Regions from separate parts of the Homo sapiens genome. Here regions 1, 3, 4, 5, 6 and 7 are each reported to be linked to region 2. Evidence: microRNA targets listed by miRTarBase, many of them from high-throughput screens and not tested one by one. Region 2 holds a microRNA gene; each other region holds the end of a gene's coding sequence.
The links. The annotated mature microRNA hsa-miR-1321 reads CAGGGAGGUGAAUGUGAU and lies in region 2 at 2,174-2,191, opposite strand. An mRNA with a match to its seed (bases 2 to 7 or 8) in the 3' UTR can be bound and repressed. Matches are read on the target gene's strand: a 7mer-m8 pairs with bases 2 to 8, a 7mer-A1 pairs with bases 2 to 7 and ends in A, and an 8mer does both.

Region 1: miRTarBase lists REXO2 as a target of hsa-miR-1321. The part of its 3' UTR that is shown has no 7-base or 8-base seed match.
Region 3: miRTarBase lists PDPR as a target of hsa-miR-1321. Seed matches in the 3' UTR shown: 7mer-m8 at 1,269-1,275, 8mer at 1,311-1,318 and 7mer-m8 at 3,902-3,908.
Region 4: miRTarBase lists CTDSP2 as a target of hsa-miR-1321. Seed matches in the 3' UTR shown: 7mer-m8 at 2,376-2,382, 7mer-m8 at 2,350-2,356, 7mer-m8 at 2,346-2,352, 7mer-m8 at 2,342-2,348 and 7mer-m8 at 1,679-1,685.
Region 5: miRTarBase lists NFIX as a target of hsa-miR-1321. Seed matches in the 3' UTR shown: 7mer-m8 at 3,264-3,270, 7mer-m8 at 3,260-3,266, 7mer-m8 at 3,256-3,262, 7mer-m8 at 3,252-3,258, 7mer-m8 at 3,248-3,254, 7mer-m8 at 2,429-2,435 and 4 more.
Region 6: miRTarBase lists PISD as a target of hsa-miR-1321. The part of its 3' UTR that is shown has no 7-base or 8-base seed match.
Region 7: the mRNA of SNAP23 is a reported target of hsa-miR-1321. Seed matches in the 3' UTR shown: 7mer-m8 at 1,562-1,568.

The regions. Positions count from the first base shown.
Region 1 is chr11:114,449,480-114,453,998 of GRCh38, reverse strand. REXO2 (RNA exonuclease 2) reads right to left here. Exons shown (of 7, transcript NM_015523.4): 7 at 3,720-4,153. The coding sequence ends at 4,024. It also overlaps the pseudogene LOC100422382. Among named protein-coding and RNA genes, the nearest start is that of REXO2, 12 kb to the right of the region's middle.
Region 2 is chrX:85,833,504-85,838,022 of GRCh38, reverse strand. It overlaps MIR1321 (microRNA 1321), which reads right to left and starts at 2,243; the gene lies at 2,165-2,243.
Region 3 is chr16:70,156,246-70,160,678 of GRCh38, forward strand. PDPR (pyruvate dehydrogenase phosphatase regulatory subunit) reads left to right here. Exons shown (of 19, transcript NM_017990.5): 19 at 230-4,433. The coding sequence ends at 634. It overlaps LOC400541 (a long non-coding RNA gene), which reads right to left. Exons shown (of 3, transcript NR_126007.1): 2 at 2,560-2,644; 3 at 95-259. Among named protein-coding and RNA genes, the nearest start is that of CLEC18C, 15 kb to the right of the region's middle.
Region 4 is chr12:57,819,769-57,824,287 of GRCh38, forward strand. CTDSP2 (CTD small phosphatase 2) reads right to left here. Exons shown (of 8, transcript NM_005730.4): 6 at 4,459-4,519; 7 at 4,136-4,321; 8 at 159-3,959. The coding sequence ends at 3,834. Among named protein-coding and RNA genes, the nearest start is that of MIR26A2, 2.7 kb to the right of the region's middle.
Region 5 is chr19:13,093,935-13,098,453 of GRCh38, reverse strand. NFIX (nuclear factor I X) reads right to left here. Exons shown (of 11, transcript NM_001365902.3): 11 at 1-3,819. The coding sequence ends at 3,805. Among named protein-coding and RNA genes, the nearest start is that of LYL1, 6.7 kb to the left of the region's middle. RefSeq lists enhancers at 287-426, 1,672-2,535 and a silencer at 2,847-2,936.
Region 6 is chr22:31,615,810-31,620,328 of GRCh38, reverse strand. It overlaps PISD (phosphatidylserine decarboxylase), which reads left to right. Exons shown (of 8, transcript NM_001326411.2): 8 at 493-1,838. The coding sequence ends at 717. SFI1 (SFI1 centrin binding protein) reads right to left here. Exons shown (of 33, transcript NM_001007467.3): 30 at 3,452-3,584; 31 at 3,251-3,329; 32 at 2,103-2,214; 33 at 1,741-2,015. The coding sequence ends at 1,911. Among named protein-coding and RNA genes, the nearest start is that of MIR7109, 3.5 kb to the left of the region's middle.
Region 7 is chr15:42,530,618-42,535,136 of GRCh38, forward strand. SNAP23 (synaptosome associated protein 23) reads left to right here. Exons shown (of 8, transcript NM_003825.4): 8 at 796-2,441. The coding sequence ends at 861. It also overlaps a transcript of LRRC57 not described here. Among named protein-coding and RNA genes, the nearest start is that of LRRC57, 16 kb to the right of the region's middle.

The DNA.
Region 1 (4,519 bases), not on the chromosome of region 2:
AGCATGCTTAGAATACCAGAGGGTGTGCCTGCCCTCCCCTGGGGTCCAGATCTTCCTGGTAGTATATGGGGGTTCTGACTGCCCACCAGCACTCAGGGGATTGTAGGCACTGTTCAGGTTGAGGCTGGAGGAAGCAAAGTGTTTCTAGGCCTCTTGTGTTGGTTCTGCATTGAAGTCCCCTCAAACAACAAGGGGAATCTTGGCCCTTGAGTGACATTTTGCAGGTTCTGAAGAAGGTCACAGCCTTGAGCTGATCAAAATCACGCCCAGCCAGTGCGTGCTTTTACATGGGTGACACCGATGCAGAACTGTTGGTCTGACTCCTTGCACTCTAGGAACTGTGCAATGGCCACCTGATTAGTTTTCAATGTCATGGCCATCAGCCTAATATTGGCACTGTTCACTAGCCTGATTTGGTTTTGGAGGAAAAATTAAGCACAGCTGTCTGGTCCACTGTTGTATTCTATACCTAGACAAGATGACCAGGGCTTGGGGGAAAAAAAATGTGCCTTGATAGCCCAGCCTCCTGAGGAGTGGTTGGAAGGTTTCAAAATACTGTTCTACCTCTTGGAGGCACAATATATCAGGCTGGTAGAATAGGATTTCTTCTAGCGTGAGAAGCTTCCTTTCTTCTCACTTGAGTGTTTCAACAGGGCATTGTACAAAGTTGTCTTTGTCTTTCCAAGAGCTTGGATGAAGTTGTTCCATTGCATGACTCTAATAGGTAGGTAGTTACTGGAGTCTGTCCTCAGATCCACAAAATCTCTCTGGAACCAGGGAAGTTAAGTATCCACGACAGCCCTGCATTCCTCAAAAAGCTGCTCTTTAGGATCTATGGGCTCCAGATGTTCTAGGTCAGGTAATAGCAAACACTCTGGGTGCAGGAGGCAGCAGCACTGCTGTTCAGTGTCTTGGCGAGAGCGCTAGAGTCTGCTCATACTATTTCAATCGTACTTCGACTACCCATACAACCGTTCTGCTTTTCACCTTCTCTACAGTATTAAGTTACATGGTATATTCAACACTTTATTATAAAATAGGCTTTCTGTTAAGATGACTTTGCCCAACTATAGGCTAATGTAAGTGATCTGAGTACATTTAAGGTAGGCTAGGCTAACATGTTTGGTAGGCTAAATTTATTAAATGCATTTTTTACTTAATAGTTTCAACTTACAATGGGTTTGTTGGGATGTAACCCCACTGTAAGTCAAAATGCATCTGTACTGATTCATTCACCTTGAGTTTAATAGGGGGAAATACACCTGGACGATCCTAAGAACATAGCTTGCAGGACAATTACTGCACCGAACGAACCAGCAAATGAGAGGCCCCCCAAGAGCACTAGAATGGCAAGCTCTACTAAGCAAATATACTGATCATTTTTCAAGCTGTAGTTCTATTTAAACCAATTTGCACTGCAGTTCATTTCACAGAAATTACTTCATAGCTTCAGGAATCCCCTGTGAAATCCTAAATACCAGCACTACAAATTTAAATTTAACTTAAAAATACTTAAAAATAATGAACTAATCACTGAACCAGCATGTCTTCATATATACCTGCACTAGACTGGTTTTGCTTAACTCACAGGCTACCAGTTATTTTATTAAAATTCAACACAAGCTCCACTAAAGGACAATAGAATTAGCTACACAATTAAGATACAGAAGACAGCATTAAAGCAGTAACACCAGGAGTTAAAAATTTTTAAACTGGCTTGAACAGTTAAACAGGTGAATAAACCAGCCAGTTGTGTGGAAGAAACCTTGAGGCATTCATTAATAGCAGTATCTGGTTCCTACGAACCCTTCTTAAGCCCAGTGTTTTCTTATCTATCATCACATTAGAATTTAACATTCCTGAAAGCCAAGTAAGGGCAAAGACCCTTTTGCCAAATTTAGTTGGAAACACTAAACCAAGTCAAGGTCACACTATTAGTGAAGTTTACTACAGTCCTCAGCACAATGTAGGCAGTCATAGGCATTAAGTGAACGCTGATTTAAGATAATGCCTCCAGCCTCATAACTAATCATAGTACCCTTTATTATCAATATTCATTAGCTATCATTACACGATGCTCACTGTGCTGAGCTCAGAACTGTATGAATAGCATTTAAATTAATTCTAACAATTCATTAAGTAACGTTATTAACCTCATTTTACAGATATGGAAACTGAGACTTAGAAAAGCAACTTGCCAAAGTCACTCAGTATGTCAGGGGCCTGAACTTGAATTAAGAGTTTGATTCAAGAGCCCTGTTCTTAACTACAGTTGAACCTTGAACAACACGGGGGTTAGGGGTGTCAAACCCTTGTGCAACCAAAAATCTGTATATAATTTTTGACTCCCGCAAAACTTAACTACTAATAGCCTACTACTGACCAGAAGCCTTACTGATAATATAAAGTCAATTAACATAGATTTTGTATGTTATATGTAAGAGATAATATATTTTTTATACAAACATCAGGAACAATATATATGTTATATTCTTACAATAAAGTAAGCTCTCAGAAAAGAAAGTTAAGAAAATCTTAAGGGAGAGAAAATAAATTTACTGTTCATTAAGTGGAAGTGGATCATCATAAAGGTTTTCATCCTCATGATCTTTACATTAGTGGACTGAGAAGGAGAAAGGGGAGGGGTTGGTCTTGCTGTCCCCGGAGTGGCAGAAGCAGAAGAAAATCTGCATGTAAGTAGACCTCTGCAGTTCAAACCTGTGTTGTCCAACGGTCAACTGTACTACCCAATCCTGCCTTCCAAGCCACTGAAGTTGGTGCATAAGCTAAAACCCATGCCATTCCAGAAAGAAGTGGTCAAAAAGATCAGCAGACTTATGTTTTCATAAATTCATTCTTAGTAGACTCATGAATTTCAGTCTTAATTCACTCATTTGGAAAAAGTTACACTACAATCCCTCTCTCCACTGATACAGCTGTAGTGTAGGTAACACAACTTAGTACATGTTAAAATGTTACTCAAATGAAAATATTATGGGGTTATTCTGATCTACTAGCTAGTGATCTATCTGTAACTATCACACATCAGGATCACGCTACTATGTTCATATCTGTAATATGAAATGTAATTTGACATCACCACAGAAGTCTTCTCACCTAGTGGTTCTCAAGGAAAGGAAAGTAACCTGTGGGCCTTTCCCAATTCTGATTTGTCTTCAAGGGGAATTTGTCAGAATGAGGTGCACAAAGCAATGAGATGTGTTCTACAGATGATTCTATTGCACACTCTGGCTAGGAAATCACCTTAGTACTGTGGTCTAGAATACGTAAACTTAGGAATTAGTATGTTCGAATTGAAATCCTTTCTCAGCTACTTACTGACCATTAGAACTAGGGCAGCAAGCTATTTACATTCTGTAAACCAAGCAGTCACTGCTGTGCATATAAATAAGCCCTAATTATTACTTGCAATAAACCTTAGTTACAGAATCCGTCTGAATTGAATTTCCTGAATGTAGCAGAGTAGCCTAGTCCAGTGCTGTTAATTCAATAACTCTAACAACGAGCCCAAATCTGCTTCTTTAAACTTATCTGCGGTTATTCTAAAGCAAAACATATTCACTTCCTGTTTGACATGAACTTATTAACCGATTCCTAATTGCATTACAAGAGTTTAAACATTAGCCATATCACTTAAAAAAGAAAAAGCCATCTTTTCCCAATAATTAAACTACTAAAGAATAGATGGTACAAAAAGGTTTGCATTTCAATAGAACTAGCTTTATTTACTTATTTATTTATTTAAACAAAAGAAATGGTTTAAAAGCAAATGCATATATGTACCAAGGGATGGACATGACCTGGTACTTACAAAGGAGCTGCTGTGTCATAATGGAAACAGCATATTAGGAGAAAAATAGTATTTCGTGTGCTGTCTGCTTGAGTAATCAATCTGGAGATGCAAGTTAACCGAAGGTGCTCTGCCAAGCCATCAGCGTGAGAAAAAAAAACCACCAGAAGTTGCCTCCAGATAACGATGTAGTGGCAGCATGATAACTGGCATCAACTCACGGTCTTCTCATTTTCCCCATTTTCTATAATTTTCCTCTTCTTTTCATCTATTTTTTTCTTGAAGATGTTATTTCGGTAAAACTGAAGCTCTTTGATGCTTTCACTAATGTCATCAAGTGCCCTATAAGCAAACATACCACAATGAATGAACTGTCCAAAACCAGGAGATGAAAATCATTTTAAAAGTACAACTTTTAAAAAACGACTTAAGAACAATGGATGTTACTGTAAGTGTCACTGTCTAGCATCATCAAAAGTAGAACATTTCAGAAAAGCAATTTTCTTTAAATGCTTTGTTTTTTAAAAACTTTTGACAAAAAAATTTGTAAAATATAGAAGATTAAAGTTTCCCAAATTGTTCCAAAAGATGGCGACATGTTCCACAGGGAGAAAAAATAATTCCACGGTCAAATAAGTTTAGAAAAACTAGAGTAAACTTTTTACTGAAATAAAAAGTTGCAAAGCATTTAATATACTAATGTGTATT
Region 2 (4,519 bases):
AAAGGCTGCACTATCGGCTTCCCTACTTTTGAGGTTTTGGGACTCCGACTGACTTCCTTGCTCCTCAACTTGCAGATGGCCTATTGTGGAACTGCACCTTGTGATCGTGTGAATCAATTTTCCTAATAAACTCCCCTTCATATACATATGCATATATGCTAATAGTTCTGTTGCTTTATAGAACCCTAATACAATACCTTTAAAAAAAAAAAAAAGAAAACTTTTAGCTCTTTAACTGACCTGAAATTTATTTGGGGGATTTATGTGAGATAGAAATCTAACATAAAATTTCATATATGAATATCCAATTTTCCTCATGCCATTTTTTGAGATCATCTTTTTCACACTAATCTGAAATATTACCATTATCAATTATTAAATTCTTATACATGAAATCTGTTTCTGGACTATATTCAATGTTATTGCTATTTTGTCAATTCCTATACTAAGATGATGTTATTTTAATTACTGTAACTTTCGAACACGTATTGATACCTGGTAGAGTCAGCCTTTCTGCCTCATTTTTTTTTTTGTCTTAGTTATGCTTGGCCCTTTGCTCTTTCATATACATTTCGGAATCATTTTGTCAAGTTCCACACACATACACACGCAAATCCTTGTTGCAAGTTTGATTGGAATTGCATTCAATATTACTTCACTTTCCCATCCATGAATGGGAGGGTATATCACTCATTTTATTTAATTTTTTACTATGTTTTCTAAATAATATTATACCTTTTGGCAGACACTGATAGTGTCCACCAAATATCCATGTTCAGATCCGCATTTCCCACTCTACTTTGAAGATAAGTTCAGGTAGCTGGGCAGTTAAGAGCCAGTTTGCCTCTTGCATTCCTTTTTCTCCTTTCTATAACTAACTAGTAGTCCAGATGGCATTGCCACAGTTTGGAAGCTTCCAGGAATCTTGAGTCAGCTCTTAAAGGGAAGCTGTGCCAGAGAGCCACCTGACTCACATTAACTGTAACTGGAGCAAGAAATAAATTGGTGTTGTGTTACAACATGGCTATTTCAGGGATTATGTGTTACCACAGCATAGCGAACATTACCTGACTAATTAAAAAGTCTTGACCATCTTTTATGTATTCCAAGGCATCATATACTGTTTCTTAAACTTTTCTTTTATAATAATTTGCTGTTGATGTATAGGAAAAAAATTAACGTTATATGTTGATCTTGTAGCTAATAACCTTGCTAAACTCTCTTACTAATAATATATCTATAATTCTTTTTAGTTTTCTATGTTGATAATTATATAATCTGTGATCAATGACAGTTTTATTTTTCCTTTTCAATCCTATACATTTTAACTCTTTATCTTGTCTTACTGAACTGCCAAGGACCTCCAATACAATGCTAAACAGAAGTGGTGATACTAGACATACTTCTAATTTTCCTGGCTGTGAAAAAGGTAAGGTTAAAACAGTTCACCGTTAGTGTATGTTTATTGTAGGTTTTATTAAGTTAAGGGAGCTGACTTCTATTTCTAGTTTGCTAAGGAGCTTTTATCATGAATGGGTCTAGAATTTTGACCAAAGCCTTTTCCGCATCTATTTATTGACTGCCTACTATGGGCTAAGCACTGATCATGTTTTTCACTCCTTTCATCTATTAATGTAATAAACCATATTAATAGTTTTTAAATGTTAAATCATCCTTAAATTTCTCCTGGTGACATAGATGCTCCCACCTCTGGGTTCATTGTAAGCCTGTGTGTGTTGCCAGTGCATAGCATAGCTGCTGGCATAATATAGGCAAAATGTTTTACTCATGTTCCTTATTATTTTACTTAATAAATGATATATTTTATTACTGTATTTGTAATATTTCCAGTAGCAGAATACTATAAAACACATATCTTAAATAAATTTGAGTTAGAATAAGGCAGACATGCTCAACCAATCCCAAGAATCATATTGTATATTGTTCCACAAGAAGAGCTAAGAAAAAAATATTTAGTGATTAGAAAAATTATATCACTATCTCAGGTGGTTTTCTTAATTTCTTCATTATACGGTTTTAAGTGGGATTTTAGATTTCATTAATATAAACTCATAGGGAGCAATAAATAGTGGGAAGAAGAGAGATTTGAAGTCAGACAGACTTAGGCTTGAATCCTGTCTCTTTAACTTTCTTAACTATATATCTATCTTTGATCACATTCACCTCCCTGAGTTTATTTCCTTATTTGTAAAACAGGGATAATAATACTTGCTTCATAATGTTGCTATATTTGCATTAAGTAATCAAAAAATAATATAAAATATCTAGCATATTGTGGACCTTAAATAAATGTTAGTTCAAAAATGAGTATGAATAAATGAATATACATTTTTTCCTCAGAAAAATTTAATATGTCGAGAATTCTAAAAATAAAAAATCTATGAATGAGGTGTGCCCAGCTTTACACATCTCTGAATAAATTGGGGTTCTTTGTTTTGACTGTTTATCGGTGGTTGATAATTGTTCCCATTTAGAAATATATTATTAATGTCACAATGCAACAATTTGTGAAATTTATGTTATTAGTCTATATATTCTTACCTTTGGAACTACTGTTAATCCCAAATAGGTATCACGGCTCTATTTTTAAACATTTATATAACAAAACTATCAGTAAATATTATTCAGGGTTTAATTACGTTACTCTACTTTTTTCCTCCAAATAAATAGTTATTCTAATCCACTATATGTTCAGACATTCTCTCTCTCTCTCTCTCTCTCTCTCTTCCCTCCCCCTCTTCTTCTCTCTTGTTCATTTTTGAAGTAATAGAATTATCATTTTGGGGGAGAAACTTGATGTTCTCAAATGTGTTTGGAATAATAATGTTCTAATAAATAAATTTGAGTTTCCCAAACTTTTACATGAGAGTAAAGCACTAGAACCAAGGTCTCTATAGAGAAGAAGAAGCAAAAAGGGGAGAGTGTAGAGAAAGGATGAAAAAAGAAAAGGAGGAGAAGAGGGAGGAGGAGGAGCAAGGTTTCAATTAAGTAACTCAAGTGTAATGTGTGCCCCTCTCAGTTTCCTGTCTGCTGCCAAATCTAGGGAGTTGCTAAACTTCAGTGGTCTACCCCTGAAAATTTTTATTATTAGAGCCATCATTTTCAGTGAGTGGAATGAGGTTAGAAGCTATGTGGTCTCTATATTACTTGGAAAATATATCATTTGGCACTCCTCAATGACATTAGACTGTACATTTCTAGATTGATCTGCACAGTTCTTGTCAATTGGTAGGGATTCAATCTATGTTGAGTTAAACCAACTGAGATAAACTGCATTAAACCCTTTAATTTTACATAACACACCCACCACAGAAAAAATTTAATGGTAGTCCTTATCCCCAAATAATTTTCAAAACAAAGCAATAACAAAAACAGTCACTGAAGGGTAACTTATTGAAGGTATGAGAAGTTTTCATTGAAAATGCTCCCAAGTGACAGGCTTACAGTTCATAAATAAAGATGACAATGCAATGGCCCAGTATTTTAAAATCTTAAACACTTTTTTAGTGAAGGCCTGTGAGGTCATGTGAGCTAATATGACAGACACTGAATATTTACTACTCAAAAGCCATTCAGAATCCACTTCTCCCTTGCCTTCATCTACTATGGACGCTGTCTCACATGCAGATAAGAGTGATTATGTGACATGAAAGTAGCCAATACTGAGTATTCTTTGCCCCCAGTTGCAATTTCCTTTGGTGATATGAAAAATGTTTCTAGGTTCATTGTAATATATTAGCACAAAGTTCTTGTCTTGTTTGTTCCTGGAAAAAGTCTTTACAGTCCGTAAGTGCTGTTTTCCAAATTGTTCCCTGTAAGCAAATCAAAGAAAGCCAATCAAAATGACAATGTACATACTTTAATGTTAAATACAAAAAATCAGAATAAAAAATTATTAGTATATATCTCCTGATTTTGTTCACATACACATGAGCAAAGAAAAAATACTTGATGGAAATGAGGCTTATAGGAAACATATTAAAGTAGTAAACTCAAGGTAGGATTTGAAGTGATTTTTATTTTGTTAATTAGAAAATTTTTAATTGAAAAATAATTATATATATTTACGGAGTACAATGTGATGTTTTGATATATGCACACATTATGCAATGTTGAAATCAAGCTGATTCCTATATTTGTCACCTCATCTTAACTTTTTTTTTTGTGGTGTGTATTAGTCCATTCTCATGTTGCTGCAAAGATACTATGCAAGACCGGGTAATTATAAAGGAAAGAGGTTTAATTGACTCACAGTTTAGCATGGCTGGGGAGGCCTCAGGAAACTCACAGTTGTGGTGAAAGGGGAAGCAAACACGTCCTTCTTCACAGGGCTGCAGGAAGGAGAATGAAATGAGTGCCCAGTGAACAGGGAATCCCCTTATAAAACCATCGGATCTCGTGAGAACTAAGTCATTATCAGGAGAACAGGATGAGGGAAACCGCCCCCATGATTCAATTATCTCTGTGGGGACACAGTCAAACCATATCATGGTGCCAG
Region 3 (4,433 bases), not on the chromosome of region 2:
ACAAAATGCGTACCTCTGTTGTTACAAAAATTACCGCGGCGTCTTTTATATTTCACATGCAGTTTTTCACATGGTAGAAATCGCACAGTTTCCCAAAAGCTGGCAGGGTTGTGGGAGGAGGCGGCTGTGCCCCATTGCAGTGACACCAGGGGACCCTTCCCACGGTGCTGCTCTCTGTGCCGAGGGTCTGAGTGTCGCTGGATGACTCGGCGTTTCCTTTCTTTCTTAGGGCATGGATTTCATTGGTCGCGACGCCCTCCTGCAGCAGAAGCAGAATGGAGTGTATAAACGCCTCACCATGTTCATCCTGGACGACCATGATTCAGACCTAGACCTTTGGCCTTGGTGGGGAGAGCCCATTTACCGGAATGGGCAGTATGTTGGCAAGACCACCAGCAGTGCCTACAGCTACAGCCTGGAGCGCCACGTTTGCCTGGGCTTTGTGCACAATTTTTCTGAGGACACGGGGGAAGAGCAAGTGGTGACAGCAGATTTCATCAACCGGGGAGAGTATGAGATTGACATCGCGGGATACCGCTTCCAGGCCAAGGCCAAGCTCTACCCTGTCGCCTCCCTCTTCACCCAGAAGCGCCGAAAGGATGACATGGAGCTGAGTGACTTACATGGGAAGTGATGCCACCAGGGCAGCCTCACCTCCTCCCCATCATCTTGTCCTAGAGTGGGCGTCACCTTGGAGCTTCTCTTCCTTCCGCCTCTGTTCCTCTTCTGGAGCCTTTGCCTCCCATCTCTTATCTCCTTGATATAATTTTGAACTTGACCTACTTTAAACTTTTTTGCTCTGCAGCCTTCCTTGCCCTTCCACCTCCTCCTCCTAATATTCACTCTGGGCTCTTCTTCCCTTCCCACCCCTCACTCAGCTTCTCGTGGTGGCAGGAGGTATGTCTGACAGGACAGAAGCAAGCTCCACTGTGGACATGAGTGATGGTGACAGCTGCTTTCAAATTCTGCATCTCAAGGCAGGGCAAGCCGGGGTGGTGCAGGTCTCAGGGCACGAGTCCCTCTCCCTTGGGTTCCATTTTCTTGGAGCAGCCTATTAGTTCTGGTGGGGTTGCCGTGTGTCGGATGCAGCCCTGAGGGGCAGCTCGTGCCTGCAGCCCGGCAGCTCGTTCTCCTGTTCTGCTGTGCTGTGGGCTGGCACTCGATACCTCTGGCAAGAGGATGATTATCTACCTCACTGATAAGAGGCATCGCATGGACGTTCTCTGGTCTGTAGTGGAGACAAGCAGTTAACCTAGCACCATCCTCATCCTCCCTGCAGAAGCCATTAGCAGACCTTTGGGCCAGGGCAGCCTCCCTATAATTTTCTTCATCTCTTGCTAATCTCTATAATAAGGTTGCTTTTTCTTTCTTAGTTGAGTAAACAAGTAAGCCACAGTGTTTGAAAGGGAAAAACCATATTGCCTTGTGTGTTGCTTTTCCCAGTCAAAAGGGTCTGACCTTAGAAAGTCCCCACCAGTGATGCTGAGTGTTCTGCTATGGAAACAATGCTGCTTTTCTCTCAGCTGTCCAAAGTTCAGCCGTTCCTCCTTCCCCTTCTCCCAGTGCGTTTGACTTTGTCAGGTCAGCCTCACTTGTCCCTTTCACAGTTGGCCCATAAAGTCATGTTTCTCTCCCTTTAGAATAGGGAGGGGAAGGGATCAGGTGTGTTGTCCTGGGCCTTTCAACCTTGCGGGCTGTGCTGAGTTCCAGAGAGCTGCCGGAATTCCAGGTTTGACTCTCCAGCACAGAGCAGAGCTACACAGAGGTGACCCACGTTAGTCCACTGAGAGTTCTGAGTCCAAAGGGTGTACGTTGCATAAGGCTAGAGACCGCTTTTCCTCCTTTCCCCCCAGGCTCTTTGTTTCCCTCCACCCACCCTTCCATATCCTCTGGAGCAGGAGACAATGTGGGTGCCCAGAAGTGCCCTGCGCTTTCAGGCAGTGTCTCTGTTTTCCCAAGGTGAAACTTAGATATCATGGACTGTTGTCCAGCCTCAATGCTTCATTTTCCCCTTGCATATCAACTGCCCTAATCTGACTTTTTTTAAGTGCAAATAAACTGCTATAAGACATTTTGGTTAGTAAAACTCTAGCCTTTGGCGTGTTGGTATCTTGGAAGCATTAGCTCTGATAGGTCTATAAGTGTATTAAGGGACATCCTTCCATTTCATTAGAGCAGCTTAAAATGCTCAGGTGTCTGCCTTCTCTGGTGTTTCTTTGGGATCTCTGTTTACCCACTTACGCTGGCTCCTTCTAGACATTTCTTGCCACTTCCCCAACTAGACCACTCCTAGTGATTACTGACTTTAGTGCCTAAACCTTTTTGGAAGGTTCTGGTTGGCTTGTTAGAGGAGCATATGATTAGAATTCTGTTTGGGGGTCTAGTTGTCTTGGAGCAAGTATGTACTTAACTAGCCGAGAGATGCTGCCTCTAGGCAGAGAGGAGGAGAGGTGTTGCCGGCTGGAGGGCCAACCAGTGAACACCAGCTGTGAAGGCCTTGGGAGAGGAGGAACAGGCCCTTGGGCAGATGCAGGCATTACCAGCAGGGAGCAGACTTACCTCCGAAGATGGAGACAGGTGACTGAGAGCTGCAGGCCTCCTCTGCTCTTCCAAACACGTAGCATTTGCACCCCTCCAAAGCCATCTTTGTAAAGGAAAACGTATTTGTAATTGAATCCAGAAGAATTTAGTTACACATAGACATAACTCTTCAACCTTAACTATGGCAATACATTTGTGCTTTAACTGTTACATAGCAGTATCACCACTTACCAGGATCCAAATCGAAATAATAAAAGCTGTCTCCATAGTTTAAAATCGAATAGTGCCATCATCACAGTATATTAGTCAAATAGAAGCTTCATCAGAAATGTATCCCACATAGAGTTTTAAGACTTGGATTCTCTTCTGCCCTTGTTAATCTCCAACTAATTACTACAGATTGACACGTTTTTAATTAGCTGTCCTTTGTAAGAAGTCAGGAAATCTGATGCTGTGTCCAAAATTATGCACTGTTTGTTGAAGTAGAACCAGAAATCCTGACCTCCTGTTAAATGACATCAGTTTCCCCCTCTGAGCAACAGACTGCTTGTCTTGCTAGGAGAGGAGGATGGGGGGCTGAGCACTCAGGCTGTCCATTGAAACCCCTTGTCCATGAATAGGGTCATACTCCTAAGACTGATGGGGTGTTGATCTTCTAGGACATCACTTGTTTATTCAGTGCCCCAAACACAGATTTCTCTTCTAGCACTTTAGAGTTGATCCTTGAAGTCTCTCCTGGTTCATTCAAATACAAGCTGTGTGAGTCTGGTGGTTTTCTGTGATTGGTCTAATGTGAGCTCTTTGAACAGACAGATCTGACAGTGAATGACTCTCCCCTGCTTCTGGCATAACTGCTTTGCCTCTGTCTAGTGTCCAAGCATCTTAGCTGTTCAAGAGGAGAGGGCAGCATAACTTCCTGACCACCGGTGTCAGATATCAGAGCATTCTGGACTCCTGAGAGGCAGTGGCCTCTTGAGTGAACAGGGGAGGCCAGTAGATGCCCCAGATCCAGAGCCGTGGCTGCAAATCCAGCAGGAATAAGGAGGGACAACCACAGCCTCCTCATCCATGTGTCATTTCCAAGGGTTTGCCTTGTGTCTCAGCTCATTCTGGGCAGCACGTTTGTCTTCTGTCCCTAGAGATTTGAAGGATTTTGGACTCTTGTGAATGGGTGACTGGACTTGGCTTTACAGAGTTGGGTGCTTTTTTCTCTCTGCAATTACCTGTCATAGCATTTTGTGCTCACCACGAAGGATGGTCTCTGCCTTCTCTTGTCGGTGTATGCCATCTGAACCTAGGAACACAAAGTATATTGGCCTCAAACGGAGACCCAGGGTTGCCAGTTTTCCGTGGGCCTTCCCCTCCCTTGAAATGTCTTTAATTACCTCCCCTTCATCGTCAGGCCACGTGTGACTTCTGTTCTTAGCACTGCCAGGGTCATTGACTTCCATCTAAGCTTGCATCAGGAAGATGTTCCTTCTGTGATCATTGGTACTGAAGCCAGAAAAGCTCTCATTCAGGAACTCTGAAGAGCAAAAAGGGACAAACACTAACTGCTGAGCTGGGCCATTTGATCTCCTTTCACCTTGCATTGCTGTCACAGCACCTTGTATGATGGCAGGACAGGCTCCAGCAGAGAGAACTGCACAGTGACCACTGTATTTTTCACGCTCTTCCAGGGATCCCTGTCCCCCGACATTGAAGAGATCTCATTCAGGCCAGAGACACAGAGACCACATAGCCCAGTGATTAAACCCCGGTTTCACTCTGGCCCCAGGAGTGGAGCCTGGCCACTCCTGTTTGGTTCTCACTGGGAGGCCCACTGGCCTTGGATCATCTCCTCATGCACACCCGGAGTTTTACCTGCTTGCTTGCTTTCCTGGACTGCTGTT
Region 4 (4,519 bases), not on the chromosome of region 2:
TGTGTGGCATCTGCAGCTGGCCTCCCGGTGGGTGCAACACCCCACTCAGCCCGGGGGTGCAGCTGCTTCATGATGGAAGGGGTTGCGAGAAGAAAGGCGGTGCTTGCCATGGGCCCAGTGAACACTTAAGGGCCAATGAAGGTTGGTGGCAGCTCACATTCCTGGAAAGGTTTTTTAAACCCACTTTTATTAATTAATTGTAAGTAATACAAATATTCCAAAAATATAAACAGACACTTAATGGCGTCCTGCATTTCAAGTTTTTGAATACAACAAATTTATCAAACCATGAATCTGTAAGCAAGGTAGTCAGAATCCCATAGCCCAGTCACAGTGGGAAGCAGATCCCCTACCCTCCAAATGGCATCTTGAAGGGGGAAAGCGGCACGAAATGGAACATGATAAGCAAAAAAGCTCACGAGGCCCAAAGAGGAGGGTCCGCTCCATGGGCAGGCCCTACAACGTTAAAAGAATGGGGCAGCTGGCCCGACCTCTGGCCTCCTCTTCCCTGGCTGAATGTAAATATTTACCAGCATTTAGAAAAAAGGAGAAAAAAGACAGAACTAAACCCGTTTAGGAAAAAGGGACCGAGGGACAGCAGTGGTTAAGTAATCCACTGAGGACCTGAAGGGGAAAATGGACTTACCTTTCTCATATACTTGGCCTGGCTAGGACACTGGGTGCCAGACAGCCTTCTGAGGGGATTTTCTTTCTAAATGAGGCCTCAGGAACAGGTAGGGGCAGCAGAATAGAATAGCATCCATTTCCCAGAGAAAGACTGCCTTTACATTTCCCATGCTTTTAGCACAAAGCAGCGTCTGGGCCACTGTTACCAGAGGTGAGTTTATACATTTACAAAATGCTTAAAATCTTTGGGAAGCAAGAGGAAGCTAAACAGAAGGTCCCATGTTAACTGAAGGCAAATTCACTCAACCTCTCTAGTAAGGGACCCATGGGCCTACAGAGTGTTCCCTCTACAATGTGCAGAGTGGAAACCCTTACCTGACCCTTTTCCAAACTGGTCCTGTGTCCAAAGCTCCCCCTATGAGAGGGACACGAACATCAGGCTTTTGATTTAGAAGCCCAATCAGAGAGACACACTGTGTCCCTGAAGAGGCACCTTAAAAGAACTGAACCTGGCAGGTAGGCAGATTCCTGGCATGGCTTGAATTGGTGCTGACCAGGCATGGTGGCCTATTGCCTCCCAAAGACCAGTCTCAAGTGGGAGGGGCTGATGGTGGGAAGCCCTAGAAGAGAGTCTGGGATGAAGCGGCCTCCTCCCTGTCTTGCCCTCCAAAATTGAGTCTGGCCTGATTCCTTTGAGGAGCAAATTTTACAATCATCCCTCACCCTAACACACGGTGAAACTGGAAACCCGACAGCAAATAATGACTAGGCTGGCTCTGGTCCACAAGAACAGACCCTGGCTAGGTTTGGCCGAGTAGCTTCTCTGGGGCAAGTGGGAATGGCATTGTTGGGGGGGAGTTGCAGGTGGGCAGGCAGGGTTCTGATGGGAGTGAGGCCTAAAAAGCAGGGGCTTCATGCAGATGCAGCAGGGACACTCCCACCAAGCCATCCTGGGCTTTGGTCATGGGTCCCACGCCAAGCACTTGGACAAGTCTGTTAGGAAAGGGGGTGGCACATGCTCTTCCGCCATCTGGAAAAACATGGAGATCCAAGGGAGGGCGGAAAGGGTCCTTGCAACTCAGTCAGCTTAGAGCCTCTTATTGCTTATTTAGTCAGAAAAGCCTGGCTGGGCCTAGACGGCAAAAGATTTGGCCAAGGGCTAACCCTTAGGGTGGGGCTTGGAAGAGAGGCCCCTCCTGCAATATTAGGATAGCAGCCTAGGTCAGGCCTTGGGTCCGAAGCCACAGCTGGCTCTAAGAGTCTGAGCTCCTGCTTTCCTTCAAGAGACAGTATATTTCTGGCTAGCACATGGGGTCCTTCTCCCTTTAGGTACACCGGGACCCCATAGGCACCGGGGAGTGATGCTGGCGGAAATGGCCACATGAGTTCTGGGGACTCTGTTCCACTTTATGATTCCAAAGAGAAAGACAAGGCCTTATAACCTTGGGACAAGAAGGGAAGGTGGCACCACAACGCTAGAGAAAAATGCCAGCCAGCCACCGCTGAGAGCACGAAGCTGCTGCTCTACTACCTGCTTTTCTCAAAACTTGTTAGTTCCTGAGGCTGGATCTAGGGTGTGGCAATGGAAGGGATGATGGGGAAGAGTCCTGAGTGGGTGGTGTCCCTGCACCTAAAGCAATTCACAAATGCTTTGTGATACCTGCCTCCAGGGAACACAGAGATGGGAACAGGAGCGCCCTCCCACCCCAGGAGGAGGGAGGGAGGGAGGAGAGAACCCCACCCACCCCAGGGAGGCCACGATTAAGGCAGTGATGCTGAGGTGGGGCTCCTTTTTGGGAGGCCCCTTGTGCTCCCAATTACAGCAGCACTTCCTCTTATTTTCCACCCTGGGAAAACTTCCATTTCGTGATGACTTTAATTTTAAAGCATTCACTATTAAGAACCTTTGAAAGCAGGAGACACCCAGAGTGCAGGTCTGAGGGGCTCACTCACTCCTGTTACCAGAGGCAGAAAGCATGCGCATTAGGCTGGCAAATGGCAAGAACACTCATTCCCCCTCAGCCCAGGAAGAGCAAGAGTTCTGAGGCCCTTAAGAGGAAAAGCAACAGCCAGGAAGGATGAAGGCTGGAACAGACAGAGCTCGGTACAGGACAGGCCCTGGGGGAAGACACAACAGGAAAAGAGCCCTGCCCAAGAAATGGGAGGGGCTGGGACAGCTTAGTTTTTCCCAGCCTTTGGAACAGAAGTCCTTGCACCAGCACCAGCAGAGAATCCCTGAAAAGCAGACTTATGGAAATGATCCCGAGCTTAGCTGATCCACAAGCCATGGGGACACACGTCCACGCTTTGAGGATTTGTCTTTTCCCTGCAACCCCAGCGCCGCCGACATTCATTACAGGCCCAGGACTGTAACTTTGTCAGAAACAAACCAGGCCCAACACTCTGTGTTTAGAAAGAGAATTTTAAAACACAGTCAAAAGAACGGAAATCAGTTATCTGTCCTCTTCCCGGGCAGGGAGAAAACCTCCTTCCCCACAGGTTTGAGACTATGGCTAGGTGGTGAGGAAGGCAGGCTCAGCACCCCAGCCTTGGGGAGACATAGAAAAGGCCTATCCCAGGCACTCAGCCGGAGGCAAGCATAGCCTTTGGGCCACAAGACCTGATGGCCACTGGATGCTGGTCTGGAAACAAGTTCTCATCTTCCCAGAAATGTGATCTTTTGTCTGCAGCAGCTGGCTGGAGAAGGATTTCAGAAAGGTGTGTGCCTGGAGTACCCAAAGGCATACCCTTCCTTTATCCTTGGCATAGGCCTTACAACACTGAGGAAAGGCCATGGTTTGGCAATGGAGTCTTCAATAGTCTTCATCCCTACACAACTCAGTGGCTCTTAGGGTGACAGGAGAGGAGACAAGCTAACTTGGGAAGAGTCTTGGTCTTTCAGCTTCTCCCCCACTGAAACACTATACACTGGGGCCACAGTTCATGGCAAAACACACACACAAACACACACTCTCTCACAGTCAAACACACATCTCAACAAGTTGGCGGCAGGTAGCTCTGGGTATCATTGGTCTGGCATTCGCCCACTCGGCATCTAAGCTGTCCTAAAGCTCTTTCCAGTTACTTCCCGCTGTTTCCGGGCCGTGTGGTGAGGCACTCCAGCTTCTACTCTGTCACGCTGATCGTAAAGGCACAGTGTGGGAAAGTCCCCTACTGGGATGGCCGTCGCTTGGAAGCAGGGCAGGCTAAGGGGCCCGCAGCTGCCCAAGGCTGGTGTAGACGTCCTCTGCTCCGCTCAGCTCCTCAAAGATTGGGATCAGGTTCAGCAACTCAGTGTCTGCCATGTCATCAAACCAGGACTGCACAGGCACCTGGTGGGGGGAAGATGTGGTGTCAATCTCCCGACTGCTGCTTCCCCCTCCCTCGCCCCAGAGCCCTAGAGGGTGGCTGGGTCTTCCTGGAGGGGTGTACTTCTCTGGTGGAGCCCACAGTTCCAGTCTGCTTCCTCTCCCAATCCCTACCGTGGAGACGCATCAGGAGCACTCACTGCATTCTCGGGGTGGAATATGTAAGAAGCAGGCGAGTTGTCCAGGATGAGGGTCTTTCTCAGGTCCCTCCCCAGGCGGCTGAGGTCCTTGACGTAGCAGCCCTGGTGGAACACGCAAGACTCACGGAATAGGCGGGCCCGGAACACCCCACACCGGTCCAGCAGGTCTGTCACAGGGTCGGCATACTAGGAGGAGAGAAGATGCCTTAGTTTGGATACACTCCTGGTCCTCCTGTATAACCCTAGGGACCAAAAGGGAGCTGCTGGACCACCCCCGTGGCCACCACACCCACTCCTGGTTCTTCCCTCTCACCCCTAGGTACCTTGGCCAGGCTGGCAGTGAAGAGAACACATTCAAAGAGTTCCCCCATGCGTCTCAGGAAC
Region 5 (4,519 bases), not on the chromosome of region 2:
TAGAGATACTCGTATATACTGCGTTTCTTAGCCTAAGAAGAAACTTGTTTGACGGGACGGGCGGCCTTTGCGGTCCGCGATGCTGGTGCTGGTCGGGCGCACGGATCTCCCGGGAGGGGCCGAAGCGGGGCTGGCCCAGGCTGGCTTGCGGGGGGAGGGGGGCGCCCCGAGGGTGGGTGGGGTGGGGGGGAGCAGAGGCGGGGCTGGGGTGCCCCTCGGGCTCTCGATTGGGGGACGAAAGTTCTCGTGACTTTATTGCTCCTTTATTTTCTCTCGTGTGGGGGGGTCTGTTCAGCACGGTCAGGGTGGGGGAGTGGTGGGTCGTCTGAGCCACCCGGCCCCTCTGGGACCCAGAGCGCGGCGTCCGCTCCGCCAGCACGGGGGTGAGAACAAGGCACTAGGTCGGCCGGCCAGCGCGGGGGCGGGTGTATAAGGCAGTCGACAGGGCTGGTTGCGGGGTGGGGCGGGGCTGTGTGCGGGGCCGTGTGCGTGCGTGCGTGCGGGCGCGGGCCTGGGCAAATCGACCTGTCAGCGTGGCTGGTCCTGTCCTGGAGCGTCGAGCCTTCCCGGTGTTCCCCGGAGGGGGTCGGGGATAGGATGAGAGATGTTGAATGGGGGCGGGAGGGGCGCCGGGAAAGGGGGGAGGAAACTACCAACTTGCTGAGCGCGCTCCTGATAATGCTGGTGAGGGTCAAGTTGGCGTCTGGCTCAAAGAAGGGCGCTCGGGGCGGAGAGGGAGGGAGGGAGGGGACGTTTGTTCGTTGGCATTGACCTCTGCGGGGGAGGGGCCGGGGACCCCTGCCGCGCCCCCGTACCCGGACGGGGATGGGGCGAGGAGGGGTGCTGGGCCCCAGGGAGGGGCGCCCGGGGAGACCCGCGGCCGGAGCAGTCCAGCCGCCGGGGGCACGCCGCTGTCCCGTTCCGTTAAACTCAACAAAGAAGGGATATGCGTATTCCTAACAAGTGCAGGATATTTAATTGATTCATAAACTTATGTATAATAGTTTGTGGGTTCTTTAAAACGTACTTTATAATGTAAGAAGCACCAGGGTTTTATGTTTAATTATCTTAAAAATAATTTTTCTCTCGTCCTTTTCCTTTTTGATCTTGTGTTGGTTGATTTTTTAAATGTCGAGGTGTTTTTTTTAAACTCTAAAATGTGAACGTTTCCTTCAGCCCTCCCACCGAAACAGAACGAACGACGAAACAAATAAAAACCCCAGATCATCCTCGTCAACGCAGGAAAACGACTTAAAAAAAAAAAAACTAAAAACGAACAAAAAAAAGGGAAAAACACTCAGCTTTCGTTATCCCCGCGCAGGGCGGGGCAGGCCCGGTTCTTTTAGCGTCCCCAGAGCCGCGAGGACATTACAACAAAAATAGAATTTTTTTTTCTTAATCTCTTAACATACAAAGATAGGAAAACTCTCTGATGCATTGCACTTGGTTCAATGAAAAAAAAAAGTTAATTTCCCCCATATATATTTTTGTTTTTTTTTTTTTCTCTCCTAACACGTCCCCACATCTCCTGTTGCCCTCATTGCCCCTCACAACACCACTTGGGAAAGGAGCAGCCCCCACCCCCTGCCCGCCCGGGCAGCCCCGCCGGGCACGCTCCGGCCCGGGCCCAGCTGGCCTGCAGCTTCCGACCTCGCCCGGGCAGGCGCCCCGCAGACCCTAGCTCCCACAGTCCCACAGAGCCCGAGCCCTCGACTGTCGTCGAGGGAAAGGGCACGTGGGCCGGACAGGGAGCCCCTTCTGCTTCGCTCTCAGCTCTGACCCTGTTTAGCCAACCGAACTGAAAAATCATTGCACTTTGACCGCGCGTCACGCCCGGCCCACCCGGCCCCCCACCCCCGGGGCCTTACTCCCCACGCCCCGGGAGACTCCCGCAGGATCCACTGCCCCTCAGCCCTGGGGTCCTCTAGGGCTGCACGCTGAGGACAGGGGGAGGGCTTCACTCAACTTCCAACAAAAGCCGCCCCTGGAGCCAGCCACCTTGTGGCTTCCAGCTGGGTAGCAGGCACCGTTCGCCTGCCGCTACGGCCCCAGGTCGCTGACCTCCTCCCCTCCCGTCACTCCCTCCTCTTCCCTCCCTCCGCCAGCTCGGGGCCACAGCCTCACAAACTAGATTCACAATAAATACAGCCCATAGCCCACCCCTACGTGGTGCAATGTTGATTTTCTCTCAGAGGATCCTGACCTGTGCTTTGTGTTTTCATACAATTAAGAAAGAGAGAGAAAGAGAGAGGCACAAGGACTCAAGAAGGGGCCAGGAACGGGAGACGCAGGAGGAGGAGTAAGGCACAGAAAGACAAGCCAGAGGGGCCAAGTCACACCCTGGAGGGGAGCTGGGCGTGCTCATCCTCCCCTCCCTCCCAGGGGGGCTTCTGAAGACCCTCTGGACAGGCCCCCCAACCCTCCCTTGAGGGAGGAGGGGGCTGGGGGGGAGAGCTACTTCCTGTGGTGTGTTACCAAATTGTTCCCAAGTTGCTCAAATGGAGGAGGAGTTCCCATTCCAACAGCAAAAGACCCAAACAATGAATGCCCCACCCCTAAATAAAGAGTAAAGACATTACAGCTAAAATCCAGAGAAAAGTGGCCACGTGGGGGGCGGGGAGGCGGGGGAAAGTCGGGGGGCACAGAAAGCTCCAAAACACTTTTGAAAAGGACGACACCCAACACCCTCCCAAGGAACTGAAAGTCGGCGAGCAGGACGCCTACCTAAGCGCAGGTGGTGGCTTAGCGCGGCAGCGGCGGCTGCCTGGTCCTCCTCGCTCGGCTCCGGGGTCCCCTTTCTGCTCCACCCTCCGGCCCGGCCCCAGCAGGGCAGTCTGCATGAGGGGCAGGGGCAGGAACTGATGGGGCGGAGCGAGGGCACCTGCATGCAGGGCTGGGGGCGGGGGCGACCTGGGGCCCGACTCCCCTCCCTCGTGGCAGGAAGGAGGCCCTCCTGGCCTGCAGAGAGAGGGGAAAGGGGGCCTGTCCCAGGCTGGGACGAGGCCGTCGAGAGCATTCCGACTTTTTCCTACGGACTGTACAGAGGGGTCCAGGGCCCCAGGACTGCTCTTGCGGCTCAGGGTGGGGTGTCAGAACACCCTCCATTCTGGGACACGCAACTAGCTCCAGGGGTCACCCCCTGCCCGCCTGGGGGCTTTTAGCCCAAGGGTGGGGTGGGGTAAGTGGAGGCTGCTCTCCCCCTCCTGGTCGGGAGCAGCTGGGGGAAGAAGCTGGAGCCTTGGCAGAGAGGGAGGGAGGGAGGGAGGGAGGGAAGGGCGGAGTCTGGAGGGGAGAGCCTGAGGGATCTAAACCCCATCATCTTTACAAGCTGGCCCTCCAGGCTCCCTAGGGCAGCTCCGGCTGTGTGGAGGGTGGGGTTCCCCTAGGAAGGGGTGAGGGTGGAGGCCAGGCCCCTTCAGAATTGTGCTGGTTGCTTTGTTTGGGGACTTTGTTCCTTCCCCAGAAGGCCGGGGCGGGGTCAGGGGGAGGAAGGCAGTTCTGCATCCTTTCTTGCTTTCTGTCCTCTACTTGACAGAGTCCATGTCGCGTGTTTCTTTCTGCTTGGCTGCTGGTGCACAGCTCCACCGAGACCCCTTCCAAGGGCTCTCTGAGAACTGGGCTGCTTCTGGGGCCCGCGGGGGTCCCCGGGCTGGAGGAGAGAAGGGCTGAGTGGCTGACGACGTGTAATTTTTGCTTTTCGGTGGGGCTGGGCTGGGCTGGGGGATTTTTCCATTCTCAAAATTTCTTCTCCCCCCTTTCGAGGAACCTCTTCTTCTCATTTTGTTGTTTCTTTTGTCGATCTTATCAGAGGAACCAGGACTGAAACAGGATGAAAAAGAGGCGATACTGAGAACAGCTGGGGCAGGTCCCATCTCACTCCTACCTGGCCCAGTGACCTGGCCCCTCAAGGGTCCAGCTCCCAAAGAGCCAGGGTGCCGGGCAGCCACCACCCACCTTGTTCCCATGGAGAAGAAAGGGCATCCCCATTCTCTCCCTCCCTCCTGCGAGAACCCCGCCCCCTCAGAGACTCTGCCCCTAGTGCTAGAGTCCAGCTGGCCTTCCCGTGGGCACTGTGCCCAGCGGGTGGGACCCCCATGGCTGGCGCTGGCACAGGCCTGAGATCTGGCCATGTTTCCAATTGTTTAGGTTTTTGTGTGGGTCCTGGAGGGTGGGGAAGATGCCAGGCTGGGGCTTTTGTACCCAGAGGGGTTTTAGGAATGGGTTGGGGGTGGCCCAGCTTCTTGCTGAGTTTTCTTTCTGTCTCTTTGGATTAAAAGCAGAAATTCCCATCTATATACCCCAGCCAAGGTCCCACAGGCTGAAAGACTGGGGGCAGGGGAACCACACAGCTTCAGTCCCTAGTAGCGCCAGGCCTGGGGGAGGGGCCACGTAGCCCATGGTGCTGGATCCTCTACCCTCAGGGCACCAGACATTGAGGAAGGACTTGAGGCTCCCTGGGGTGAGCGTCATTTCCTTCATATCGCCAGCAGGGGGCGCTGCCTTCCCACAGACAGGGCCT
Region 6 (4,519 bases), not on the chromosome of region 2:
ATGGAGGGAATTAACCTCCTTGCCTGGCACCTGGCTTCTGCTAGGAACCATGGTCAAAGGTGAGAGTGAGGAGGGAACAGAAAGGGAGTGTTGAGCTCGGGGTGGCTCATGTTGGTTACAGCATGAGGGGTCAGCACTCGCAGGTCTGCTGCCCACCCTGCCCCCAGGGGCTGCCTTTTTGGGTGTCAGTTTGTGACCAACGGCCTTGGCTCCCACGGGTGCTGCTCTCCCAGCACCATGCATGGAGACCACTGGGCCCCACTGTTCCCTGTCCTCCCTGGGCCCAGTTCACAGCAGGTGTCAAGGCTGTGTGTGAGATCTGGCTAGAGCAGGCCCACCTGGCCCTGAGATGCCATCCCCACCTCCCTTTTGGAGCTGGGTTGGGTGGTGGTGGGGACAAGCAACAGAGGGAGTGGGACTCCAAACACATGTGGGGGTGACACTGTGCACTTGGTGGCCTGGGCCCCACTGACCCCCAGCCTATCACCACAGGACCTGCACACAAACAGCCCAAGGCACAGCAAGGGCTCCTACAATGACTTCAGCTTCGTGACGCACACCAATAGAGAGGGCGTCCCCATGCGTAAGGGCGAGCACCTGGGCGAGTTCAACCTGGGCTCCACCATCGTGCTCATCTTCGAGGCCCCCAAGGACTTCAATTTCCAGCTGAAAACAGGACAGAAAATCCGCTTTGGGGAAGCCCTGGGCTCGCTCTAGAGTCTCTTTCCTGATTATGGCTGCTAAGGGATCTTTTCCAAACAGAGTGAGGGTCTTTTCAAGAGGGAGGCCCATGAGGCCATCCAGGTAAGGGCCTGCCTCAGCGTGGTTGGGAGTCTGACCAGGTAGGACTTGAATGATTCGGCTACCACCTGTTCCAGAGGTGCAGACAAGAGGTGGCGAGAGCCCCCATCATGCCCCTCAACCTATCCCGTTCCTTCTGCCTACAAATAAAAAGTGCAGGCTGGAATGATCTCAGTCACATTTGGATCTTTTTAAACACTGTATAGACGGAAGAGCCTGCATTCCTGACCGAACCTTCAGTTGGTCTCGGTTGTCGTTTTTTCTTGCTGCTCCTCCCCCCATCACCTGAGCTGTTTTCTGTTGGCCCCTTTTGTTTTTTGGCCTTAACGCTCCTGCTGCACAGGGTGAGGTGCCTCCTTGGCACAGACTGTGGATGCCTCTCCCCCAGCAGAGCCACACAGCCTTCGTGACAACTGCTTTCCGTTCCCACATTCACCTCATCCTGCTCTTTAGAAAAAGCAGTCTTTGTGCTTGTGGCTGAACGCATCACCCTGGACTCTGCTAGTGTCTTCTGAGGACACTGATGACACTGATTAATGATACAGACCTTTGCAGGACCTGATGAGTGACCCTTCTGGAGCTGGCCAGGTCCTCTGCAGCAGGCAAGACCAATCAATCACTGAACCTGCCTCATGGCACCAGAGTGAACAGGGCAGGCAGGTAGTAGGCCCAGCTGGGGAAATGGGAGAGTTCCTGTCCCCCTCCACATATCCCTACATGAAATATGGGAAAGTTGCTGCTATTGATTCAGGGTCTGTCTTGGAGGCAGAGGACCCTTGGTGGATAGTTGGTCAGTGCCTGGAAAACCTGTCCCAGTTTATCAGGAACGCAGGCCTGGGGAGCCCCCAGTGGCGGGGACAGGGCCAGATTTCATGTTGACCCTGGGGATGCTGTGAATTTCTCCTGCAGGAGAGACATCATTGAATTTTTTCAACTGTATCAGTAGCACAGTATTTTTGTATGAAAAGTGGGAGACTTCTGAACAGTAATTCATTTAATTGCAAAGCATTTTGAAATAAAAAAAATCAAACTTAAAACTGTGTTCTGTTCCTGGAGGTGGCCTGAGGCCTCCCCGACAGCCCAGCACCTGCGTTCCTGGTGCGAACACGCTAGCACAGGGCCTGCCGCAGGGCCTGGATGCGGGCAACGCAGGCGCCAATGGGCTGGCGCTGAGCCTGGAGCTCCTCTGCCAGCAGCTGGATCTGCATTTCCACCTGGGGCCATGGAGGGACAGGCAGGGCTGAGAGGGAGCACAGCCCGGGGCGTCCCCAGGGACACCTGGGGATGGCCTGGGGCCTCACCTGTTCCAGCTCTTTCTGCACCTGCTGCTCTACTTCCTGGTCCTCAGGCCCCGGCTCCTCTCTGTTCAGCTCCAGCCACCTGCGCAGGCTGCTCGCTTGCCGCCGACAGGACCTGAGGGGTGGAGATACCCACTGCCTGCCAGGCTGGGTCCTTGGCAGAGCCCCATCCGGCTCAGGGAGAGGCACCTCAGCTAATTCTGATGCGGGTATCGGGTGGAGAGAGGTGGTCTGGTAGGGCCCCTGACCTGAACTGCAGGCCCCTGCTTGGGAGCCAAACACTTGTTCTTTTTCCTCTCCCAGTCTCCTCCGCCCTCCCCAGCAGACAGCAACTCAGGTGGGCCTGGGCAAGAACACACTCCTTGTCTCTCTCCCCCTGTGCAGAGCCAAGGATGAGGCGCCAGTCTGTTGCCCTGGAAGCTCTGAGGTTGCTGCATGTTGAATGGTCCCCAGACCACTGAGTGCAGCTGAGTCACGGGCCTGTCTCCTCTGCATTTTTTTTTTTTTTTGAGATGGAGTGTTGCTGTGTTGCCCAGGCTGGAGTGCAATGGCGTGATCTCAGCTCACTGCAACCTCCGCCTCCCAGGTTGAAGCGATTCTTCTGCCTCAGCCTTCCAAGTAGTTGGGACTACATGCGTGCACCACCATGCCCGGCTAATTTTTGTATTTTTAGTAGAGATGGGGTTTCACCATATTGGCCAGGCTGGTCTTGAACTCCTAACCCCGTGATCTGCCTGGATCACAGCCTCTCAAAGTGCTGGGATGACAGGTGTGAGTCACTGCGCCTGGCCCTTCTCTGCACCTTTAATATCAGTGTTATAATTAGTCACTGGGGACAGCATGGCCTCATCGGGTTTTTAGAGTTTTGCTCAACTTTATCGTCCCCCCCATAGGAAGCAGAGCCTCTGTGCACAGGTGAGTCTGACGACTTGGGCCTTCCTAAGCAGCACTGAGCCGGGTAGAGAGCCATGGTGGAGATGGGGTCTTTCTGGACAGCACACACTGAGGGCTCCCCACACCCCTCCATGGCTAGACCGAGACCACCTACAGGACCCTGGCAGCTGGCTCGGGGGAAATGGAACTGCCTGCCCACCTCTCCAGGCAACACCTGCTCCTGTAGCCAGGGCTGCAGGGCGTTTCGCAGGGCTCACCAGAGGTTCTGCTTGGTGGTCTGGTAGTGCAGTAGTTGCTGCTGGATCTCCTCAAGTTCAGCCTCAAGGTCCAGGCTGCCTATGGCGACAGAAGTAAGCTTGTTTCAGACTATTTTCCCCTCGGGGACCAGGGTAAATAGCAAGTCCCAGGTCCGGGAGTGGCCTGAGTGCTTTCTGCCCTGACAGGCCCCAGGTACACACCTGCAGTTGAAAGTCCAGGCCCAGCCCTGGTGGCTGAGAAGTCCCCAGGAAGGAGTAGATGGGGGTCAGGGACACTGGCCAGGGATGAGGGGACCGGGGGCTTATCCCTAGGAGTAGCCCGCTGTGCTGACACCTGCAAAGGAAAGAAGGGTAGATGCTGAGCAAGGAAGCTAGGAGGAAGCCAGGGAGGGGGACACCAAGTCCTTGTCACTGCCTGCCCTGCAGGGGTGGGGGAAGACCAGGCTCCCAGCTGCAGGAGCTGGGCTTCCCAGGCACTGGCCGTGCCAGCTCAGTGTCTAGCCTGCCCCTGCACACAGGGCCTGGTACTGTAGGGGAAAGTCCCGCAAGCAACCAGGGAGCACCCCGTGTCACCACAGTCCGCCTCACGCCTCCACTGCCTGAGCAGCTGTTCCTAGCCTTGCCTTACCCAACCCTCCACCCCCACCTGCTCTAAGCTCATGACCTTGCTGAGCTTTGACATCAGTGAGAAGTGGTCAGTGAGAGGCCACTGCTCTACAGCCTTTTCCATGCCCTCCTCTCCTGGTGAGAGTGGACTTGCCCCTTCCATCACCGGACAGGGGTCAAAACCCTTTCAAACCCACATTCAAACCATTCCAGCCAGGGTAAGTGGCCCCACATGGCCTAACTCACCACAGGAACTGGTTCCTTCCTGTCCCCTCATCCCCTTTCAGGAACCAGCTGCTTTGGTGGCCTTAGAGCAGCTGTCACTTCCATTACTGAGCTCTCACACCCCCTGGCCATCCCCACCCAGGCTCCCTGCTTGGAGCCTCCTCCCCTCTCTCCTTCCCCTGTACTCTCCTCCTAGAGGCCGCAGTGGCTCTGGGGTTACCTTCGGCCTGTGCTGAAGATTCTTCTCAATCTCTGGCCCTGACCTCTTCCTTGAAGGTCAGACTCAACGTTTGCTTTCTCTCAAATTTGACATCAAGAGCCTGGTTCAAAACACTCTTGACACTTCACCCCAAACCAGTCCCCACCCCCAGTTCCTTCTTCCAGTCAAAGAACTCTGTTTCCCAAGTTATTCAAGCCAGCAGCCCACATCAGCCTGGA
Region 7 (4,519 bases), not on the chromosome of region 2:
CATGTGCCTATTGTCCCAGTTACTCGGGAGGCTGAGGCAGAAGGATTGCTTGAGTGTAGGAGTTGAAGGCTGCAGTGAGCTGTGATTGCACCATTGCATTCCAGCCTGGGCAACAGAGTGAGACCCTTTCTCAAAAAGAAAGGAAAAAAAGAAAGTCATACCTCATTAAAATCTCAGTGAACTTTAGGGTGAGTTTTTAAGCTTGGCTCTCTGTTAAATCACTTTTGATGGATTTAATTGAAACAGTGGTTCACAAGATGCTTTAAATGCTGCAGTCTGGGTTTAGGCTATATTTACCTGTCATTTTAATTCAGATGTTGGTGAGGATGGTAATAGATTCGTTTCAAAGATCTTTGGAAAGGTTATTTCAGTCTCTCCAGGTTAGACTTAGGGTGTCTGAATCCAGATGAGATTCTATGATTCAGTTCAGAGGACTCACACAAGGTCCAGATCTTTAACAGAGAAGAGCACTCTTTCATATTTCATTGCATCAAAAAATGCCATTGATTACAGGATGCATCCCAGTTTCAGGCATGTTAAACTATGAAAAAATGCGTTATAGAATTTATGAAATATTGGCAAGGTCTTATATGTTACACCTTTGTCATGTTTATATACCAGGGGTTTTCCAAATGAATTTCATATTCTGTTACTTCTTGCCCAACATGAGTTTTGTAATGTAACTTCACGTGGTTTCTTGGATTTTCTTGGTGTGTCAGTTACTCCAAGTGTAAAAAGTTTAATTTTTATTAGAGTTACTTACCTTGTAAAGCTGATATCTTTCTTGTTTTTCAGGCTGACACCAACAGAGATCGTATTGATATTGCCAATGCCAGAGCAAAGAAACTCATTGACAGCTAAAGCTACTGCTGTTCTTCTTTATCATTTATTCACTTCCGTAGCTCCTCCTTGAAAGTTATTACCTTTTCAGAGTTTAAGTTTTCGGTTCCACGCTCTTCTAATTGGGAGATAATATGGAAGAAGGGCCAGAGCAGTTACAGCCCTCCTTCTTTTTTGTTTTCTGTTGAGGGCCGACTGCTGCTCTGCCTTCCTTCTAGTATTTTCTTTCTCAATTCATACGCTTAGATTGGTTTTCATATGTCATGTTTAGTGTTTTCATCCTCCTCATATACTTCAGCAGGTTCTTTTGCTTTCAAGATTTGGAAGCATTGCCAAAGACAGCCATGAAGAAGGAAGCTGTAGAGGTGTTTTTTGTTGTTGTTTATTTTTGCTTTTGTGGTTGAGGGAAGGACAAGAGATAAGAGGTTGTTACCTCAGTAAAAACCTTCAGGCCACAAAGCAAAAAGTTGCATAGCCACAACGAAGATCTAGTTGGATATAGTTTTTGATTTAAGTTGCAGTTATAGCCAATTTAGGCTAATGCTTGGTTTTGGAGCTTTTATACACAACGTTTTTGTTAGGCATCACAGTTTTGCAACCTCTGCTCCAAAGAGAAAAATAGAATGAGTTTTCTTTCTTTTTTTTTTTTTTGGAGTCAGAGTCTCGCTCTCTTGTCCAGGCTGGAGTGCAATAGCGCGATCTGGGCTCACTGCAACCTCCGCCTCCCTGGTTCAAGCAATTCTCCTGCCTTGCCTCCTGAGTAGCTGGGATTACAGGCGTGTGTCACCACGCTCGGCTAATTTTTGTATTTTTAGTAGAGACAGGGTTTCACCATGTCAAGCTGGTCTTGGACTCCTGACGTCGTGATCCACCCGCCTTGGCCTCCCAAAGTACTGGGATTACAGGCGTGAGCCACTGTGCCTGGCTGAGTTTTCTTAAAGTGAGCTTAATTTCTGAACTCTTAGTGATTCATATATGTACATAAATCTGTGATCCCATTTCTTATTGCACCATTCAGGAACACTTTATATAAATGAGTGGCTTTTTATTTCATATTATTAGTAGTATCATGGTTCCATTACAGGCCTATTAACATCATACATTGTCATTAGTCTTTGAAGAAAAAATATGTAAATATATATGTGTAACATGAGAATTTCTCTCTAAAGCAGGGCTTAAAATTTTTTGGAAAAGTTTGACAAAGCATACCACATGAATTCAGATTTACCTCAATGCTAAGAATTATGTTTAGTTAGGAAAAAGGAAAGTCATTTTGACCTCAGGTAGAAAAATAGATTGCTTTGAGTTTTATGTAGCTTTAGACTTTAAAAAGTTAGAATTTATTCTGTAACTAAAAATTATTTGAAAAAATTATGCCTCTGGTTTAATTATTGGTGATTACACACTCTTTCTCTTACCCTTGTGTATTGAACTATGTCCATAATCAAGTTGATGTGGATCCTGAAAAGTGTTATGAACATCTGATTGGTATTTGTCACATTTATTTTAAAATTAGCATCTGAACACTTCAAAGCTGTCAGTGTGTATTGGTTTCACCAATAACCACTGCTTGATCCTTACAATTAAATTTTTTAACTAACTAATGGTATTGTTCTTTCAAATAGGTAACATGTTTCTATGACTGTTATTTGGGGGAAAATAGTTTCATCAGCTCTCATTTAACAAATTAATAAAGCAAAGATCCATACATCAAGAAACACTACAGCAGGAAGCTGCCTTTAGCATCTTTCCAGTATTTATTGAAAATATTGATGGGACTTAAACTTACCTTGCTAAAAATTTATTGTGAGGTTCATTTTAATCATTACTAGTCTTACTCACTTGAGCTTAAATACACTAGTGACTGGAAGGGTAATGGTTCTGTGTGAGAACTACAACTCACTGGAGAAGATACAGTTAATGTGGGAGCTTTCAAAGGCTAAAGAGGAAAATATTTAAATAAAGTGAGATGCAACTACACCCTCTGTAATAGAAATGCTCCATGTCAAAATGAGTGGTTTGGCAGGGATGGTAAATATGTAAAGTAAGGTGTAAAACGGAGGATTGTGCTTTACCTAAATGCCTTTCCTAAAACCATTTACCATAAAAAAAAATTTTAGCACTGTTCTGGATAAAGGAAATAGTTCTGAGAATACCAGCATGCTACACTCACAGTATGATTGGTTAGAAGCATGGGCTGAGGCATTATCTGAATTTTCACTCTAGCTGAAGTGACTGTAAGATCATTTCTGTGCCTTAATTTGTCTGTAAATGCAGATTAATACAAGCATACCTCAGATACTGAGGGTTCAGTTCTAGACCACTACCATAAAGCTAGTATTGCAATGAAGTGAGGCACATGAATTTTGGTTTCCCAGTGCATATAAAAGTTCTGTTTACACTATTCTGTAGTCTATTAAATGTGCAATAGCATTATGTCTTTAAAAAGCAATGTATATACCTTAATTTAAAATACTTTACCATGGGCCAGGCGCAGTGGCTCACGCCTGTAATCCTAGCACTTTGGGAGGCCAAGGCAGATGGATCACTTGAGGTCAGGAGTTTGAGACCAGCCTGGCCAACATGGTGAAACCACATCTGTACTAAACATACAGTTAGCTGGGTGTGGTGGCATGTGCCTGTAATTCCTCTACTGAAGTCTCTTTTTTGTTTGTTTTGTTTTGTTTTTTTGAGAAGGAGTCTTGCTCTGTCATCCAGGCTGGAGTGCAGTGGCGTGATCTGGGCTCACTGCAACCTCCACCTCTCGGGTTCAAGCGATTCTCCTGCCTCAGCCTCCTGAGTAGCTGGGATTACAGGCAGGCACCACCGTGCCCAGCTAATTTTTTTATCTTTAGTAGAGACAGGGTTTCACCACGTTGGTCAGGCTGGTCTCGAACTCCTGACCTTGTGATCTACCCGCCTCTGCCTCCGAAAGTGCTGGGGTTACAGGCGTGAGCCACCACACCCGGCCTCCTCCACTGAAGTCTTCAAACGCCCAGTCATCCATGAGGGTTGGAATCAACTTCTTCCAAACCCGTGTTAATGTTGGTATCTTGACCTCCTTTCATGAATCATGAATGTCCTTAACGGTATCCTTTCCAGAGGGTTTTCAGTTTACTTTGCCCATATCCATGAGAGGAATCACTATGGCAGCTATACCTTTATGACATTTATTTCTTAAGCAATAAGACTTGAAAGCTGAAATGACTCTTTGATCCAAGGGCTGTAGAATGGATATATTAGCAAGCATGAAAACAACACAACATTAATCTTGTACATCTTCATCAGAGCTCTTGGGTGACCATATACTCTGATGCTCACTATCAATAAGCAGTAAGATTTTGAAAAGAATACTTTTTTTTCTGAGCAGTACTTCTCAACAGTGGGTTTAAAATATTCAGTAAATCATGCTGTAAACAGATGTGTTATCATCCAGGTTTCATTGTTCCATTTATAGAGCACAGGTAGAGTAGACTTAGCATGATTCTTAAGGCCCCTATATTTTCAAAATGTTAAATGAGCAATGCCTTCAGCTTGAAGTCACCAGCTCTATTAGCCTCTAACAAGAGAGTCAGCCTGTCTTTTGAAACAAGCTAGGCATTGACTTCTCTCTAGCTATGGGAGTCCTAAATGGTGTCATTTTCCAATAGAAGGCAGTTTCATCTACATTGAAAAATCT